Linked DNA regions of Homo sapiens. The protein of the gene in region 1 purifies or fractionates together with the protein of each later gene. This does not show direct contact. Each region holds a gene or a part of one and is shown on either strand. Other genes may lie near its edges.

Region 1 (5,217 bases):
TCAACAAAGGTGGTTGAGTCAGAATTCACACCCAGACAGTCTGACTGGAGTCTGCTCTTAACCACAACCCTTTATGGGCTCTCCCCTGTGAGCTTGCATCTCAAATGCATGGGCATTGCCCAGGAAGTTTCAAAAAAAGTAAAAAGTTCCAACCATCTTGAAATCCCTTACAACAGAGGTTAGCAAACTATGGCCCAGGGGTCAAATCCAGTTCAATAGCTGCTTTTGTAAATAAATGTTTATTGGAACACGGCTATGAATTTGTTTATGTAATGTCTGGCTGTTTTAGCACTGAAGTAGCAGAGTTGAACAGTTGTGATAAAGACCAAAGAGCCTACAAAGACTAAAATATGTACTGTCTGGCTCTTTATGGAAAAGTTTGTTAACCTTTGCTCCACAAAGGTTTAACCCATCTTTTTAAAGATGGGTTGTTACAATGTTGCCTAGGCTGGAGTGCAGTGGCCCGATCACAGCTCACTGCAGCCTTGACCTCCTGAGCTCAATCAATCTCCCACCTCAGACTCCTGAGTAGCTGGGACTATAGGTGTCCACAACCATGCCTATCCAATTTTTTTATTTTAGTTATTTGTAGAGACAGGGTCTCCCTGTGTGGTCCAGGCAGGTCTCATACTCCTGGGCCCAAGAGATCCTCCTGCCTTGGCCTCCCAAAGTGCTGGGATTACAAGCTTGAGCCAACATGCTCAGCCTGCTCCGCAATTTAATGAAAAAATCTTTACCCAGAGCAGGCAGTAGATTTCTAGGACATACGGTACCAGGAGCTGGGCTTGACTCCTGAGTAGCCAGCCAGCCCATGCTTTGCTTGGCTCACAAGTAGCCTTTGCTTTAGGGTTCAATTAAAGAGACCCCCTCTTACTGAATTCTGGTCTCCTGCCTTTGATCTTTTATAAAAACCTTAGGAATAAAGATTTTCATTGGGCCAGGCACACCTATAATCTTAGTTACTCCAGAGGCTGAGGCAGGAGGTTTGCTTAAGACCAGGAGTTTGAGACCAGCCTGGGCAATATAGCAAGATCCCATCTCTAAAATAGTTTTTTTGTTTTGTTTTGTTTTAATTTGCTGGGTGTGGTGGCACATGACTGTAGTCCCAGCTACTAGAGGCTGAGGAAGGAAGATCACTTGAGCCCAGGAGTTCAAGGCTGCAGTGAGGTATGATCACACTACTGCACTCCAGCCTGAGCAACAGAACAAGACCCTGTCTCTAAAAAGATTGGAAAAAAAAAAAAAAAGATTCAGGTTTCTGAGAGCTGCTCACTATCTCAGCAACTGTCCCAACCCTGCCCTAGCTCAGCGTTCCCCTGCCCCGCAGCAGCATCGCAGGACACCCCAGACAGAGGGGTAACGGTGGAGATTTTACTCACAAATGCTGAGCTTCCCCCAAGGCTATGCTGTCCAACACAGTTGCCACTAGCCGCATGTGGCTATTTTCATTAAAACTAAATAAAGTCAGTTCCTCAGTCACACTAGGCACAGTTCAAATGCTCCATAGCCACATGCAGCGAGTGGCTACTGTATTGGACAGCACAGATACAGAACACTTCCACCATCTCAGAAATGCTATGAGCGGCCAGGCGCAGTGGCTCACGCCTGTAATCCCACCACTTGGGAGGCCAAGGCGGGAGGATCCCTTGAGGTCAGGAGTTCGAGACTAGCTTGGACAATTTGGTGAAACCCCATCTCTACTAAAAATACAAAAATTAGCTGGGCGTGGCAGCACGCATCTGCAGTCCCAGCTACTCAGGAGGCTGAGGCAGGAGAATCGCTTAAACCCGGTAGGTGGAGGTTGCAGTGAGCTGAGATGGCTCCACTGCACTCCAGCCTGGATGAGAGAGCAAGACTCCGTCTCAAAAAAAAAAAAAAAATGTTATGAGGATGTGGCTAATGGCTGGTGTTGTTGATCAACAGATGCATCCAGAGTGCCTATTACATTGCACAGGTGGGTGCTGGGTGGCCCTCATGCGGTTCACTCTAGTAAATGAGCTCAACACCTGACTGCTCCCTGCCACTGCAAAGTATGGCTGATGACTCTCACCTAGCAGTTACTTTCCCAAACTAAATTACCCTTGTATGGAGCCCAAGGGGGCAGGGTGGTTTTTTATTTCGGTTTTTGGGTTGTTTGCTTTTTTCCCTTTTTTTTTTTTTTTTTTTTGAGACAGAGTTTCGCTCTTGTCACCAGGCTGGAGTGCAATGGTGCAATCTCGGCTCACCGCAACCTCCGCCTCCTGGGTTCAAGTGATTATCCTGCCTTAGCCTCCCGAGTAGCTGGGATTACAGGCATGCGCCACCATGCCTGGCTAATTTTGTATTTTTAGTAGAGATGGGGTTTCTCCATGTTGGTCAGACTGGTCTTGAACTCCCGACCTCAAGTGATCCACCCGCCTCGGCCTCCCAAAGTGCTGGGATTACAGGTGTGAGCCACTGCACCTGGCCTCCTGTTTTTTTGTTTTGTTTTGTTTTTTGTTTTTGAGACAAAGTCTCACTCTGTTGCCAGGCTGGAGTGCAGTGGCACGATCTCGGCTCCCTTGATCCTGGGCTCCACCTCCCAGGTTCAAGGGATTCTCCTGGCTCAGCCTCCCGAGTAGCTGGGACTACAGACATGCACCACCATGTCTGGCTAATTTTTGTATTTTTAGTAGAGATGGGGTTTCACTATGTTGGCCAGGCTGGTCTTGAACTCCTAACCTCATGATCCGCCCACCTTGGCTTCCAAAAGTATTGGGATTACAGGCATGAGCCACAGTGTCCGGCCTTCCCTTTTTAATTCAAAACACCTCAGCTACTAATAATTCTGCTTTACTTCCTCCTTTCTAGGAGGGCTCGGCTGGGCAGAGGAGCCACAAAACAGAAATTACTTGTCTAGAACTGATCCCTTCTGTGCTCTCACAACAGGACTTTAGATCCCAGGGCCTGAAGTTGGCCAGTGGGATCTTGATTCCTGATGTGGGAAAGTCAGCAACTACACCAGTTGTCTCCTCTCCACAGCTCTGTCTTCACCTGTACTGAGGGCTCCAAGGTTTCAGAACCTCATCCTCCTGCCTTCCACAGAGCCCCAGGCCAGTCCTGGCCTGCTCCCGACTCCCAACAAGAAGCATTATGGGTCACAATGGCAGCATCAGGGTGACACTCCCCTGCCACCCATCATGGGCAGAAGCTCCCAGCAATGGCAGCCCCGGTGGGCAGGGGAGGCTGCTGAGCAGTGTGAGGCTGGACCGGGGAGCAGGAGGCGCTGCAACCAACGGGCATATCTCACCACCCTGACCTCTCCCTGCAGGCACAGAGCAAGTTGGCCCTTAGGGGCTTCCATGTCCAATTCAGCAGCTACCTTTCAAGGTTGCTGTCAAGTCCTGGGATCCCTGTTGAGAGTGGAGTAAGGTTGTAGAACTTGTCTTCCATTAGAGCCTCAGAGACTGGGAGTGTTGTTCTGCGGCCAAGCCAGAACCACTGGAACCGGACAGAGGTCTGGCCATTTTCCCTGGGTCAGCCCCACTGTCTTCTGAGTTTACTGGGTTAACTGTCACATGGAGGCACCTCCTCCTTTATCACCTACTCTTGGCTGCGGGAGGTGACCTGGGTGGTGTCTGGTCATGCACTTTCTACCCTAAATTAAAAGCCATGGATAGGAGCAGGGACTTCTGAGACCTGTGCTGAGATAACTCCCTGCCTGAGGCATAGGCTGCAGGGCACAGGGACTAGCAAGGGCTTTCCAGCTTCCCCATGACTGCTCCCAGGCTGAGGAGTAGTCTTGGCAAAAAGCCAACACGATATGCAGGGATGGGAGCCTGAGAATGTGAATGAAGGCCGAGACCTCTGAATCCAATTCTGGATTTTTTTTTGCAGGGCCACGGCCTCATTCCCTCCCGGTTCCCTCTGAGGCAGCCAGGGAGGTCTGGGTCCCATGTGAGAGACGGGGGGCAGAGCTGAGTCATGGGCCTGCTGCGGTGGGGTTTGGAATGGAGAGATGCAAGTCCTGACCTGACAGGCTGGCCTTGGGTCAGGACAAAGGAAAACAGTCACACCTAAGGGCTCAGAACCACCTGTTGGAAGCTAACCTGTGGTGGACACACTGATGTGATGTGGCAGCACCTGGGCATCAACAACTCACTAGGTGCCCCCACGGCCACTAGTCTCTGGGCCAAGGAGCTCAGGGATTGAACTACAGACACAAGGAGGGCAGAGAACAGACATGGAAGGATCCCACCCTTGACCAGGGTGGTTGTAGATACTTAAGGGGCTGTGGGGTGTGGCACCAGTCCTGCTGGATTTCAACCTGAACATCTCCTAAGTAGCTGTGGGCCCCTGAAACAATTCAGTGATCAGTAACACATAGCAATCGTCAAACCCTTTGCTGCCTAACTCAGGCCAGGGGACTACACATCAACTCAGAGCCTTGGGCTCACGGGAGCCTCACACTACCCTGACCCAGAGATGCCATCACCCTGTGGGCCTGGAGGGCAGCGGGGCCAGCCTGGGCTACCCAGTTGAATACACCTTGGATTCAGCTCAGGGTCAGCTGAGAAATATCTCTGTGTAGGAAGTCTCTTGAAGGTAGTGTATTTTGAGGAGGATACGGAAGGAGAGAGTAGGGTGTTTTCTAAGGAGACGGAGAAGAAGACCTCACAGGATGGGGAAGCCTTGCTGGAGTTGGAGAGAATCAGGATGGGGTGGAGCTGAACCCAAGAATCAGCTTTACCCAGCTGGAGCCAAATGCAAAGGCAGTGGCACGGGGCTGTGCGCCCACCATCCCTCAAAAGCTCATTTAAGGAGCATGGCCCCCCTCAGGGCAGCCGGCTCACCTCGGCCCAGGGGGAGAGCAGCAGCCGGAGGTGGCTCGCTATTGCGCCGCCGCTCGACCAGGCAGCGCTGGAGCTCCTGCAGCTTCTTCTCCTCCTGCAGCATGGAGTGCTTCCGCTGCCGCCGAGCCTGCCTGCTGAGGTTCTCCTCCAGGCACAGCCGACGGGCTGCCTCTGTGATCTGCAGCTGCAGGGCCAGCTGGCGCTCCAGGCTGCTTAGGGGGTCCTGAGAGAGGGGGCAGGAGTGAGGCTAGAGAGAGGCAGGGAGATTGGGGGCCCAGAGGGTGGACAGCAGCCCTGACACAGTGCTCTAGGTCCCAGTCCTAAGCCCTGAGGACAGAAGAGAGGCAGACAGCAGCACCAATGGACGGACGTGGAGCAGAGGGTGAAGGAGTGGGAGGAGCCGAAA
Region 2 (4,664 bases), on another chromosome or scaffold:
AGATCAGCTATCTATTCCAATTGCTTCTCCCTGCCAATGGTTATGCCACCCAGGGCCACAGGCACGGAAGAAGACCATCCCAGTCCTTACCCATAGGAGCCAAGCCCAGCTCATGATGGGATCACAGGGCAGACAGCAATTCATTTTGCCCCAGGGACTGGGGTCCCAGGGGTCGAGGAGCTGGCTCTATGGGTTTTGAAGTGGAAGTGGCCAGTTCCCCTCTGAGGTTAGAGAAGTGGACCCCTTTTATTTTCCTGAATCAGCAATCCAAGCCTCCACTGAGGAGCCCTCTGCTGCTCAGAACCCCAAAAGGGAGATTCAAAAGATCCTGGAGTTTGTGGGGCGCTCCCTGCCAGAGGAGACTGTGGACCTCATGGTTGAGCACACGTCGTTCAAGGAGATGAAGAAGAACCCTATGACCAACTACACCACCGTCCGCCGGGAGTTCATGGACCACAGCATCTCCCCCTTCATGAGGAAAGGTAGGTGCCGGCCAGCACGGGGGTTTGGAGCAGGTGGGAGCAGCAGCTGGAGCCTCCCCATAGGCACTCGGGGCCTCCCCTGGGATGAGACTCCAGCTTTGCTCCCTGCCTTCCTCCCCCAGGCATGGCTGGGGACTGGAAGACCACCTTCACCGTGGCGCAGAATGAGCGCTTCGATGCGGACTATGCGAAGAAGATGGCAGGCTGCAGCCTCAGCTTCCGCTCTGAGCTGTGAGAGGGGTTCCTGGAGTCACTGCAGAGGGAGTGTGCGAATCAAGCCTGACCAAGAGGCTCCAGAATAAAGTATGATTTGTGTTCAATGCAGAGTCTCTATTCCAAGCCAAGAGAAACCCTGAGCTGAAAGAGTGATCGCCCACTGGGGCCAAATACGGCCACCTCCCCGCTCCAGCTCCTCAACTTGCCCTGTTTGGAGAGGGGAGAGGGTCTGGAGAAGTAAAACCCAGGAGACGAGTAGAGGGGGAATGTGTTTAATCCCAGCACGTCCTCTGCTGTCCTGCCCTGTGTCGTTGGGGGATGGCGAGTCTGCCAGGCGGCATCACTTTTTCTTGGGTTCCTTACAAGCCACCACGTATCTCTGAGCCACATTGAGGGGAGGGGAATAGCCATCTGCATAGGAGGTGTCTTCAAACAGGACCGAGTAGTCATCCTGGGGCTGTGGGGCAGGCAGACAGGAGGGGCTGCTCAGAGACCCCCAGGCCAGGACAGGCACCCCCTTCCCCCAGCCTAGACCACAGGAGGCTCTGGGCCGTGGACTCTCAGCCACTCCTAACATCCTTCACTCTGGGGTCAAGAAGTCTTGGCCCAGTCCCTGCTGCTACAGAGCTCTTTTCTCAGTGGCTGGAGACCCAAGGCAGGGAATAGGCAGGGAGGAGTAGGGGTGCTGACTCCCTTCCTAGTGGGGTCATAGCTGGAGGGTCTGCTGCCTTTCAAGGACTCTTTGTTGAGAGGACTGAGGGCAACCCAGAGGGTGGCAGGCAGGGATCCTGGCCTCAGGTGGCTTGTGTCCCATGTCACCAAGAGCACAAGGCGGTAGGAGCCCAGGGCTCAGGGCAGGAGCTTCCCATCTCGGAGCTGGTTCTCCTGGGGCTGGAAGCCACTGACTCGGGGCTTGCCAAGGCTGCCAGGGCTGGCAAAGGGATGGTGGCCTTTGGGGCTGGAGTGGAAGAGGGAGGGCAGCTGGTGGGTCCTGTCAGCTTGGAGCCTGTGAGATGAGGACAAAGGGAAGGAGTGGGGAGAGGACCCCTCGTCTGTCTGATCAGCCTGTTCCTGACATCACCCATGGCCTCTCCCCTGGAGGCTGCTTTACCCGCTGTGGGGGCGCATGGATCAGGGCGCGGTAGAAGCAGGTAGTCTGGGGATACAGGGCCAGCACGAGCTGCTCCTTCTGGAACAAGGCCTCAGGGTCCGTCTCCGGGTTGGCCTTCCACTGGGGCAGCGGGATGACACGGCGCCGGCTCAGGGTGTGTCTCCTGGGGGAAGAGGGGCTTATATCAACCTGTGGCCGGGTGGGGATGCTCCTTCTCAGCTGTTAGGCTGCCCCCAGGCTCCATGCCCTGCCCTGGCCTGGACACTCACTCTTTGCCTTCTTCATCGATGTCATCTACCTCATACCTGCAGACAAAAGGAGGAAAAGGCTGGATGCAGCCAGGGGCGCAGTACCTGTTGGGGAGTGAGGATGGGGGAGGACCTGGTGCTCCCTGCACAACCAGCCTCTGGGGAGCACCCTCTGCAGAGCTTTTCTCCCGTAGCCCAGGCAAGTTCGGTGACCAGAGAGCAGCCCCAGGGTTGGTGTCACTCACTTGTTGGTGGCATGGCTGTAACTGACCACCTCGGCCAGGATCCACTGCTCGTCCCCATCCACGGCCTTCACCCGGGCAGCCACCTTGTCTCCAGGTCTGGCCACGTAGTCTCCTGAGGCAGGGATGGCCCCACAGAGGGGTGGGGGCCTGTGAGTGGAACAAAGGGTCAGTCCCAGCCCCTGGGCACCAGCCCCTCCCTCGCAGCTGCTGCCCTCACTTGTCACCAGGCTTCCCGATCCACAGGGGCAGGGTCATGGCCGACTGCTGCAGCAGGGTCATCAGCACCCCTCTGCGCATGGTCTTCCGGGGTGGCTCCGAGTCATTGTAGAGACCGGCAATCTTGGCCGCTGTGGGAAGGAAGGGAGGCCTGAGGCCCCAGGGATAGGTGCCGGCCTTGACCCCCGAGCATGCTGCACTGAGCTGTTGAAGGAGCACCTGGGAGCCCCCAGTTCCCGAGTGAGCCCGAGGGCCCAGCAGGACTGTGACCCCATCGGCCATGTGTCAGCACCTATAGGGGCTGCTGGGTTTAACTACAGTTGGGTGAGATGGCAGCACAGCGGGGATCCAGGGGGAGGAACCAGAAGAAAGAAAGCGGGTTCCAAGGTGCTGTTCAGGCTGTGTTTGCTGATCTGAATGCTGGTTACAGAAGTGTGTTCAGTTAGTGACTATTTCATTGAACTCTGCACTTATGTGTACTTTTCTTCTATTAATATACATTGTAATTCAACAGAAAGTTAAAAAAACCAAAAAAAAAATTAAATGTGCACCTTCAACCTCCTCAGGCACAGCTGGACACCCCACTTGACTTCACACAGAACCAGCATGGCTGTGTGGGGACACTGACATGCCAAGATTCTGCCCACCATGGGATTGTTGGGAGGGCAGACAGGTAGGAGAGCCTAATGCAGGCTGAGGGGGTCTGGAAGGCTGGCTTTACGACACACAGCGTGTGGCTCTGCAGAAACCAGCCAGGGCAACAGATGGGCATGGGCCATGGCAGAGGAGGGGGCGACTGGCCCAGGCCCCAGAAGGGGCAGGAGATGAGGGGCCAGGGCGGGATGATCTCTGGCTGCTGAGGGAGAACTGGGAAACCCCTGCCTCTGGGCACTGGGAATGACCTCCTGTCCCTTCTCAGTGGTAGAGCCAGTCTGCCAGAGCCTCCATGGGAGGATGCCAGCAGGTGGTGGCCACAGGCCCCCACAGGAGGGTGACTGCTGCCCGCAGGGCCTCTCCTCTTGTCCTAGCAAAGGACCTCCCAGCATGTTCTCTCCCACTCACCAATCCGCCTCTCTTCCAACAGAGACTTGATTTCCGCGATCTTGTCCAGAGCTTTCCGAAGGATGCTGAGGGCGGGGAGAAGGGAGAAAGAGGGTTTGGTTAACGTACATAGCATAGACTTCTCTTCCATTTTTTCTGTTTTGGGTCAAGCTACATTGCCCAGGCTGGTCCCGGACTCCAGAGGTTCTCACAGTAGCCTCCTGCGCAGGTGGAATGACAGGTGTGTGCAGGTTCCTGTTCTGGTCAAGGTGGGCTGGGTTATTCAGACCAACCTCATGGTGAAACTAGAAATCTGCCCGGGTGTGGTGGTTCACGCCTGTAATCCCAGCACTTTGGGAGGCCGAGGAGTGTGGATCACCTGAGGTCAGGAGTTCAAGACCAGCCTGACCAATATGGTGAAACCCCGTCTGTATTAAAAATACAAAACTTAGCCAGGTGTGGTGGCGAGCGTCTTTAACTGTAATCCCACCTACTTGGGAGGCTGAGGCAAGAGAATCGCTTGAACCTGGGAGGCAGAGGTTGCAGTGAACCGAGATCGCGTCATTGCACTCCAACCTGGGCAAAAAGAACGAAACTCCATTTCAAAAAAAAAAAGAAAACTGGAAATCTTCAGTATGTGTCTTTTAGTCTTAAGAACATAAAAAACAAGGTGGTAGAAAGCAGCATGCCAAAAACTAAGAGAACACAGGATCCCAGAGAGGAAAGGACACAGGCAAACTGCCTTCGGCAAACCCTGCAGAAAGGCTGCAGGAACCTCCTGAAATGAGGAGAGGGGGCCTCAGGTCTGCCCGAGGGTCACACAAAAGGAGGGGAGACTCTGGGGAGAGGTGCTGGCCCAGAGCAGAACTGGGTGGAAGGACCTCATCCTTTCTGAAAGGCTGAACCCAAAGACAGACCCCTGCATGGCCTTGAAGCCCCAGGAAGCCTCTGTGAAGTTAGTTTATGGGGATTCCAGGGTGGCAGGAACCCAAAGAACCCAGCAGAAGCAAACACAGAACTTGGCTGGAGTGAGGCTCCTTCATCCTAAAGCTCAGGGAATCTTCCCAAAGAGTATTTCCACAGCAGGGATGGGTGTGGTGGCTCA
Region 3 (4,664 bases), on another chromosome or scaffold:
GACAAAGGTAAAGCAGCCAGAACTCTTGGTAAGCGAGCAGCCAAGGCTTGGGGGGCATGAGGACTTACCTGAGCAAATCTAAAGAGACATATAAGCCAGATCTGCTATAGGTGTTCTCACTAAGTGCTCATTCAGTGAGTTCTATTCATGGGGGATTAAGGGCAAAGCTTGTGATGTACTAGGAACATCACTAACTGCAGTCACTGTCATGAGGGCAGTTCTCTTTTTACCTTACAATTTATTCCTTTTGGCGGAACATTTGAAACATTCTGTCAGAGTGGATTGTAACATAACTCAGAATCAGTATCTCGTTATCTACTCTTTTTTTGTTACGTCTTAGGCTATGTTGCTAATTTTTTAAAATTTGCTTCGTCTTACAGACCATTGTGATGAATGACTGTATTATCCGAGGGGATCTGGCAAATGTAAGAGTTGGACGTCATTGTGTTGTGAAAAGTCGTAGTGTCATAAGGCCACCATTCAAGAAGTTCAGCAAAGGGTATGTAATTTAATTACTTTGTTCAAGTCTTGGGCAAGAAGCTGCCACTGGTGGTGTGGTCCATGTGTTGAGTTGTGGTATAATGACTAGGTCTGTCCTGTTTGAAGCACTGAGTAAGAGTTCACCATAATGAACACAACTCTGCTGGTGGTTGTCTCAGTCTGGTTGATGATTGGTTGCTACAAACAGAATCCGCTTACACACTGGCAAAAGCAAAGGATTTCTGATCAAACAGACTGGCGTATATAATGGAACCTAAGAGGAGGAAAAGGAGCAAGCCAGGCCTCACAAGGGACCGGAACCTGGAATTGGACAGCTAGCCGGAATCAAGACTGTTTTGTCTACCTATCCCTCTCTGTATCTGAGACTGTATTTTTTCTTCTATACTGCCCTTCTCTCTGCATTTCTACTTGCCTTTTCTCTCTCACAGATACCTGCCCCATTTGTTCATGGAGCCTACCTTGCTGACTCAGCCTCTAATTTATATCATTTCTCCATTTAGGCTTCCAGCAGACACCAACTAGAGATCTTATGTGTTACTTCCAAACTCTTGAGAGAGAGAATCTGATTGACTCATCTTAAGTATCCCTGATCTGAACGACTTTGACCCAAAGGGCAGAGTCAAGTCAGGTCCACTGATCCTTCAGTGGGAATAAAGACTGTCCAAGAAAGGCCAGGGACAGAGCAGGCAAACTGACCACCATAGCTGATAATGGTGCTAAAGTATTCTCTTTGCCTCTTTGCTTCTCTCCTCCTTGACTAATTGCCCTCCTGGCACCCATCTGCATTTCATCCAATAAGTCAGCAAGCATTTATTGAGCACCTTCCTCATGCCTGCAGCTGGGTTGTAAGCTGAGAATATATAAAGATAGATAAAATAAAATTCCTGCCTCAAGGTTCCCAAAGTCTAGTTGTAGAAGCAATTAGCATAATCAGATAGCGACATATGACAGCTACTATATGATGTGATACACCTGTCACAGAGGTATGACCATGGTTAGGAAGGAACAGAGAAGGGAGCAATTAACTCAAACTAATGATAATACCCAGAAGTATATCATGCAGAAATAATCCCACATTTCCAATAATGATGTTGGATTCCAGGCTTTCCATGACATACAAGAACTGGATCGGAGAATCATTATAAAACATTCACATGATTAGCTTTGAAGGCTACTAGGGGAAAACCAGAAAACCTCCTGGTACCCTATTATGGTTTTATACAGTGTGACTGATACACTACTAGAAATGTTGATTAACAGCATTGTTGGGTTGGATATGGCACAGGAAAAGCACCAAGAGTGAACAAGGGGTTTATTGCTGAATGAAGGGATGTGTAAATAGGAATAGTACATGTGAGAAATGCTGAAAATATGAAAGTGTAAATAGCAAAACATGAATAGAAGCTAAATGTGGATTTTTTTCTACCTGCATGTCATACCAGAACCAGATAATACTATCGAACTTGGAATCTTAAATTTAAAATTAAAGAACTGTCAGTACTGCTACAGACTGTGATGAGATCAGGGAATGCATTGCTGCACAAGAGGTACAGACCAAAAATACTAGTGGTTAAGGAAGATTTAAACAAATTATAGGTTCGTAGAGGACAGGTATCATCTCTGAAAAAATATTCTGGACAGAATAGAACAGAATTGGAATTCTTCTATACTGCCCTTCTCTCTGCATTTCTACTTCCCTTTTCTCTAGTGAGCATCTAGCACTTTATATTCATTCCAGTCCAAATATTTTACATCCCAAGGTATAGAAATTACATATAAATGTGATCACAGAACCACTGTCAGTGACATTTGAGGAACCCTAGAGAACGGGATGGGAATGATGTCAGATATCTGGAGAAAGCCTGCTGACTCCTACTCAAAGTCAATTAAGTTTTTCCTAAATCCATGGACTAGGTAAGGTCTCCTTGTTATATATGCTCATAACTTGATATTGTGTTTCTGTAGCCCTTATCACAGTTGTCACTACTTACTATTTAATCTCATTTCTTCTCTTGATTGCAAGCTGCTCGTGGACAGTGTTCTCTCTCTTTTGTCATTATTATAGCCCTAATTTCTAGCATTGAGTCTGGCACATAGTAGTCACTCACTGAAGTCTGTGAATGAATAAATTTTTAGAATGCTGAATGTGGAAATTATAACTCATGAGCCTACTGTCAATCCCCTGGAACATTATAGGGCAGGTTACTAAAAATGTGATCTGTGAGCATTTTCAAAGGAAGTGGGAATGAACAAACGTTCATTGATTTTTATTTGGTACCTGCTCTTTTAGCTTTGAAGATCTTGCCCCTCCTGCCTTGGTTTTTCCTTTCATATTTCTTTGGTGTACTATTGCAATTTTGAACTAGTAATCATATTCATTTTCTTCAATATTGTATAATTTTTCTAGCCTGAGGTTTCTTTCCTTGCTGGGAACAGTCTTGCTAAGATGATAAAGTTCAAATTATGATCTGTAGTTCTATAAACCTTGACCCAAAGTACATCATCTTGACCTTTCTGTGTTCATCTTCTTTTCCTCTTCTAGTGTTGCATTCTTTCCTTTACATATTGGAGACCATGTCTTTATTGAGGAAGATTGTGTGGTCAACGCAGCACAGATTGGTTCCTATGTTCATGTTGGGAAGAACTGTGTGATTGTGAGTATGATGACTTGGCTGGCAAAGCAGCTTCACTTTCCCTTCAGCTCCCATCCCTCACTTCGGTGGGACCCTGTTTCTGTGACTAAGCAGGGTAGCAGTGGTTTCCAGTCTTCCCAGAGTTGGATTTTTCTTGACAGATATGGAATTTTTTCAGCTGGGTGCGGTGGCTCATGCCTGTAATCCCAGCTTTTTGGGAGGTTGAAGTGGGCAGATCACTTGAGGTCAGGAGTTTGAGACCAGTCTGGCCAACATGGCAAAACCCTGTCTCTACAAAAATACAAAAATTAGCTGGGCATGGTGGCGCATGCCTGTAGTCCCAGCTACTCGGGAGGCTGAGGCAGGAAAATCACTTGAACCCAGGAGGCGGAGGTTGCAATGAGCCAAGATTGCACCACTGCTTTCCAGTCTGGGCAACAAAACGAGACACTGTCTTATAAATAAATAAATAAATAAATAAATAAATAAATAAAAAGATTTGGAATATTTTCTAGACATTAATACGGGCAAGCGTTTATCAAGTCTCCTCTATATGATGTTAAACTCTTTCCTTTGATGATTTCATTTAATCCTTACAACCATTCAGATGTGTTAGGTGTTATCCCTATTTGCAGATGAGAAGACTGAGGACCTTAAATATTAAGGGATTTGGGGCCAGGTGTGGTGACTGTAGCCTATAATCCCAGCACTTTGCGAGGCCAAGGCAGGAGGATCCCTTGAGCCCAGGAGTTCAAGACCAGCCTGGGCAACAAAGCAAGACCCTTTCTCTTAAAAAAAAAAAAAACCCAAAAGTTAAGGGATTTGATAGGGCTAGAAAGCAGTAGACCTGGGATTTAAACCCAGGCAATATGATTATTAGCCATGCTGCTATATGGCCTACTTATTGCCTTACTTCACGGAGCTTACAGTCTAATGGGAGTAAGGAAATCTGAAGGGTGAGTTGAAACTGGGGGAAGACAGGCATTTCAGGAAAGAGATTCACATGCGTAAGGAAGGGTTCAAGTCATCAAAGGGCATTTACATGTAATTCAGGGTGCAAGCGGGCCCCTTGCTCAGCAGAATCTGTAGGACCCTGGTCCATTGGAGCCTAGGAATAGGTTGATTTAACCCAACCAAGGCTTAACAAGGTTGGATTTCCTGTGATTTCTTAGATGATGAGCTTGATTTCAGTTGGGATTTATGAGAACCATGTTTAGGGAAAGTGTTTTCTGCATTTTAGATTTGTACTCCAGACTAGATTCTAGGAAAAGCCAAGACTCTGTTTCTTTAATGACCATTCCCGTTAATATGGAGCCAGCTCTCTGCCCTGGATAAGACTCAGACCCTGAAATATCAAAAAACTTGCAGAAACCAAACAGTTCACATTCCAGGAGCTATGAGGGTACAGCAAAGGTGGACAGAAAGTCTTTGGGACAAGGGGAAAGTTAGTAAAGTTCATCTCTCCCCTCACCCTAATTGCTTGACAAAAGCTAGCCTTCCAGCTGGGGGTTTCTGATATTTTCCTTAGCA
Region 4 (4,125 bases), on another chromosome or scaffold:
GACCTCGGGATGAGGCTGGCCTGATGACAAAACTCCACCCATCAGTATCAGCCTGCAGCATGGCCTCCATCTGTTTTCATCAGCTGCAGTGACTTATAATAAATAATACATTCTATTTACAGGTTCTAGTAAGATCTCTCTTTGAGGGAAGACAAAACAGTGTATTTTGTTGTTACTGAACTAGCCTATACAGAACCGTCTGTGTCCTCCCAAAACGCAGCAAACTCATCTGAGAATCACAGTACTCAGACAGCGGACAAGAGCAAACACCTCTAGGTGGATGCGGCAGTGCCGTATGGGCCTTCCTTGAGGTCAAGACTGAGTCTGTCAGCCAGCAAGTTGCCCTCAGAAACCCGCAGGTCTGGGACTGTAATGCTGCTTTAAGAGAAGACTTCTGAATGGGACTGAAGTGTATCTCTGCAGGTATAAATAAGGTTATTTAGAAATACCGACATGGGGGGTGCTGCCACAGCACGGTGGAGGCCCTGGTGCTGCGGAACGAACCAGGCATCCACCAGGCTTCTGCTTCCGGTGGATGCGGGCATGGGACTTCTTATTCACGTAGCTGGAAAGGACATTCTAGCATGGGGATTAGCCCGGACAGAACCACCACAGGTATGCATTCAAAATGGGATATTTACAAGAAACATGTATATATAATATTTATATATTCAATTCAAAGTCTGGAAAAACAAGACTTTTAGTCAGTCACTGAACTTATTGCAGAATGAGGTAACTGAGATGTTCACAGAGTGGATTGATGTAGCTCAGGTCCTCAGAGTCAATCCCTCCTGTCTGGATTCATCAGTCATGGTTTGATCGTCTCCATTCGCAGAATAAGCTCCAGCTTTTCTATATACAGAGAGCAAGGTGGCGCCCCACCCAGCCCTGCCCTGTGGTCCTGAGTGCACCCCGACTTGGGTCAGGGGTGCCCAGCTTCACCTCAGAACTGGTCTTCAACAGAAAGAACTGAGGACATCCCTTATAGATTGGTCTCATCCCAGGCAGGATCATTCATGTTCTTCAGGACTTTCCTCACCAGCTTCTCCAGGTCTTTGCGGGCTCTCTGTTCTTCCTCTAGAGATTTCTTCATCTTTTTGTTGTCCTGTAAATTAAGCAGACCACAGGGTGTTCACTATCTTTGGCATCGCGTAGGGCTTCCTTTCCCCAAATGTGTATCCTTGAGGAGCTAAGGCCTCGATTCATGAAATCCCACGTGAGCTGCCTATGGGCTCTGAGGTCGTGGGGATCCACGAAGGTCAAACACCTGGACAGGGTGGCAGCGGTGCTCCTGACTGTGCTGCTGTTCCCGGGATGGAAATGGTCCTAATGGCTCTTATTAAGTCCATGAATGAATCTCTATAGAACATACCGTAAGAAAATAGCTGGAAACTGCGGACGAGACAGCTCCTATCCAGCCTTTTTGTCCATTTATAACCACCTTCCAGAGTTACAGAAAGGACTGGAAGTAACAGCCACTGACAGGTGCAGGAGCAAGTGGGCGAGCACCTGCTCTGTGCAGCTGAACCCAGGCATGTCTCGGACGTAGGAGGCATGCACAAACAGATGCCTGCTGCCGGTAGGGGCAAAGCGTGAACATGGAAGCCTGCCAGCCAGGCAAAGGTGTACCTGGAAGACCTGCGGACACTGCTTAGAATGACAGCACATGTCCAGTTCCACACAGCAACCTGCTCTCAGCTCTCTATCCCAGACCACAACTCTTCTCAGGCTGTTCCTCGGCCAAAAGAACACCCCAACCTTCCCTCACCTAGCTGGGCAGAGGACCAAAGCCGCTCGTACTCACATTCCGTGCAATGAACACCCCAACCTTCCCTCGCCTAGCTGGGCAGAGGACCAAAGCTGCTCATACTCACATTCCGTGCAATACCCAGAACACCCTTGGTTAGTCGCCACTTCTGGCTCGCTAACCTGGCTTCGGGAGCCAAGGACCATGCAGTGGCAGAGGCTAATCTCAGGGGCGCCTCGCAGGATTTGTCACCAGACAGAACTTTCGATATTTTAAATTATTCTTCCAACAGAATTTGCGATGTTTTATGACATCAAAATCAGTATTGTTAAGAAAAAAAAAAGAGTTTAAACAAGTCACTTTAGAGACAACCAATTATTTTATCTGCTGGACTTCTCAAAGACATGACCTCCTTTTAGTTTTTTGCTTATGGACAATCAGCTTTTTATTTTTATTTGAGACGGAGTCTTGCTCTGTGGCTCAGACTGGAGTGCAGTGGCACAATCTCGGCTCACAGCAACCTCCGCCTCCTAGGTTCAAGCAATTCTCCTGCCTCAGCCTCCCAAGTAGCTGGGTTACAGGCACCTGCCGCTATGCCCAGCTAATTTTCGTATTTTCAGTAGAGATGGGTTTTTGCCATGTTGGTGAGGTTGGTCTTGAACTCCTGACCTCAGGTGATCTGTCCACCTCGGCCTTCTAAAGTGCTGGGATTATAGGTGTGAGCCACCGTACCCAGCCAGCTTATTTTTAATGTAATTTTCTTCTTTTCTCCCATTTGAAAAGAAAAAAAAGATTTAAAGATGGATTATGACGTACCTGTCTTAATTCTTGAACTTCATCCTTTAATGCATATACGGTATCCACAAGACTCCTGAAACAGGAAACAGAACACACACACATGAACAAGGTGAGGCATGGAGAGGACACACGAAAACTTACCAGGAGACACTACGATGCTGAGAGGAGGACACGGAGCTGCTCTGCCTTACCCATGTACTGTCTACATTCACAACTAAAAACTGCCAACCTCTGTGCATGGCAGGTTCAAGCCTAGTCAAGGGCAACTTCAGCCTATGAAGACATTTTAAAAGTGAAGCTCTGGCCAGGCACAGTGGCTCACACCTGTAATCCCAGCATTTTGGGAGGCCGAGGCGGGCAGATCACCTGAGGTCAGGAGTTTGAGACCAGCCTGGCCAACAGGGTGAAAACTCGTTTCTACTAAAAATACAAAAATTAGCCAGGCGTGGTGGCACAGGCCTGTAATCCCAGCTACTCGGGAGGCTGAGGCAGGAGAACCGCTTGAACCCGGAAGGTGGAGGTTGCAGTGAGCTGAGATCGCACCATTGCACTCCAGCCTGGGTGACAAGAGTGACACTCCGTCTCAAAAAAAAAAAAAGTGAAGCTTCTGAAGCCATACCCCCGCCCTCAGGGAGTTGTCTGGACTCTACTACCCCACCGCAGAGGTCAAACATCTGCTTTAGAATACCGGAAGACATCTTACTTTTCTTCTATCACTGTCTGACCATTACTTTTAGTTTCTTCCACTATAATTTTCTCTTCTTCTGGAAGCAAAACTTGTGGAGCAGATTCTTTGCGTGAACCTAGGATCATGAAAAAATAATAAATAAACCTCAGGCGAATACCATGGCAGAATGAAGAAAAACAACTTGACTATACCATGTCACTTAAATATTAAGTTCTAGCAATTATGCATTTAAAAACGTTCATCCAGGCAAGCTAGAGGAGGGCATCTTTTACCAGTTCTCTTCACCTCTGTCTACCGAGCCCAGGCCTCCTCATGACCAAAGCCAGAGAGGGAAGGAAACTGTAGCCCTTTTCAAATCGGAATTACGGATTGTTGAAACCCCAGCATTTTCAACAGGGAGGAAGTTAAAGGTTGTGACTGTACTGCTCTGGATATTCATCCCATTTTGAGCCATTATTCCAAGAGTTTCAGCAAAGACATATGAGACCAATCAGAACATATACAGTGAGTGTTTATACATCAAAGATCTGGCAATAAAAACATTTTACTCTACAGCAACATTTAATAATCAAGATATTACAGCATCATAGCACATGGTTTAGAAAAAATAACATTATTTGGTCCTTTATGAAAACTTTATATTTCCTAAAATATAAACATTTTTCTAAATGAAAGCAAACTGCTCACAATGTCAGAACATTTCTGTCATTTAACCAACACCTACACAAGAGCTTATATGGGAAAGGCCCTCAATAAATGTTGCAAAATATGTACTTTAGAAATTAGGAAATCAAAATACTCATTTTAAAAGGTGAGGAAGAGAATCAAATTGTATTTAATGATGCAAGGGAGAAAATCTTTTCTTAAAGAAAATATTTTCTTGAAGATTATA

The links.
Region 2: the proteins of INAVA (region 1) and SGF29 purify together in Homo sapiens (co-immunoprecipitation; 4 studies listed by BioGRID and IntAct, with this or other methods). This does not show direct contact.
Region 3: the proteins of INAVA (region 1) and DCTN5 purify together in Homo sapiens (affinity purification with mass spectrometry; 2 studies listed by BioGRID and IntAct, with this or other methods). This does not show direct contact.
Region 4: the proteins of INAVA (region 1) and ARHGEF7 purify together in Homo sapiens (co-immunoprecipitation; 3 studies listed by BioGRID and IntAct, with this or other methods). This does not show direct contact.

What each region holds. Positions count from the first base shown.
Region 1 is NC_000001.11:200,900,754-200,905,970, reverse strand, and holds part of INAVA (innate immunity activator protein), read right to left. Parts: intron 5,035-5,217; coding exon 4,812-5,034; intron 1-4,811. UniProt on the Homo sapiens protein: Expressed in peripheral macrophages and intestinal myeloid-derived cells, is required for optimal PRR (pattern recognition receptor)-induced signaling, cytokine secretion, and bacterial clearance.
Region 2 is NC_000016.10:28,588,081-28,592,744, reverse strand, and holds the end of SGF29 (SAGA-associated factor 29), read right to left. Parts: intron 3,646-4,664; coding exon 3,581-3,645; intron 2,650-3,580; coding exon 2,520-2,649; intron 2,450-2,519; coding exon 2,303-2,449; intron 2,115-2,302; coding exon 2,079-2,114; exon of another isoform or gene 2,074-2,078; intron 1,973-2,073; coding exon 1,810-1,972; intron 1,705-1,809; coding exon of another isoform or gene 1,693-1,704; exon of another isoform or gene 1,156-1,692; coding exon 1,039-1,155; 3' UTR 955-1,038; downstream 1-954. Other genes in the region: SULT1A2 (sulfotransferase 1A2), read left to right, coding at 302-482, 605-717. UniProt on the Homo sapiens protein: Chromatin reader component of some histone acetyltransferase (HAT) SAGA-type complexes like the TFTC-HAT, ATAC or STAGA complexes.
Region 3 is NC_000016.10:23,658,127-23,662,790, forward strand, and holds part of DCTN5 (dynactin subunit 5), read left to right. Parts: intron 1-380; coding exon 381-499; intron 500-3,043; coding exon 3,044-3,155; intron 3,156-4,664. UniProt on the Homo sapiens protein: Part of the dynactin complex that activates the molecular motor dynein for ultra-processive transport along microtubules.
Region 4 is NC_000013.11:111,299,971-111,304,095, reverse strand, and holds part of ARHGEF7 (rho guanine nucleotide exchange factor 7), read right to left. Parts: intron 3,349-4,125; coding exon 3,249-3,348; intron 2,619-3,248; coding exon 2,564-2,618; intron 1,106-2,563; coding exon 983-1,105; 3' UTR 1-982. UniProt on the Homo sapiens protein: Acts as a RAC1 guanine nucleotide exchange factor (GEF) and can induce membrane ruffling. Functions in cell migration, attachment and cell spreading. Promotes targeting of RAC1 to focal adhesions. May function as a positive regulator of apoptosis.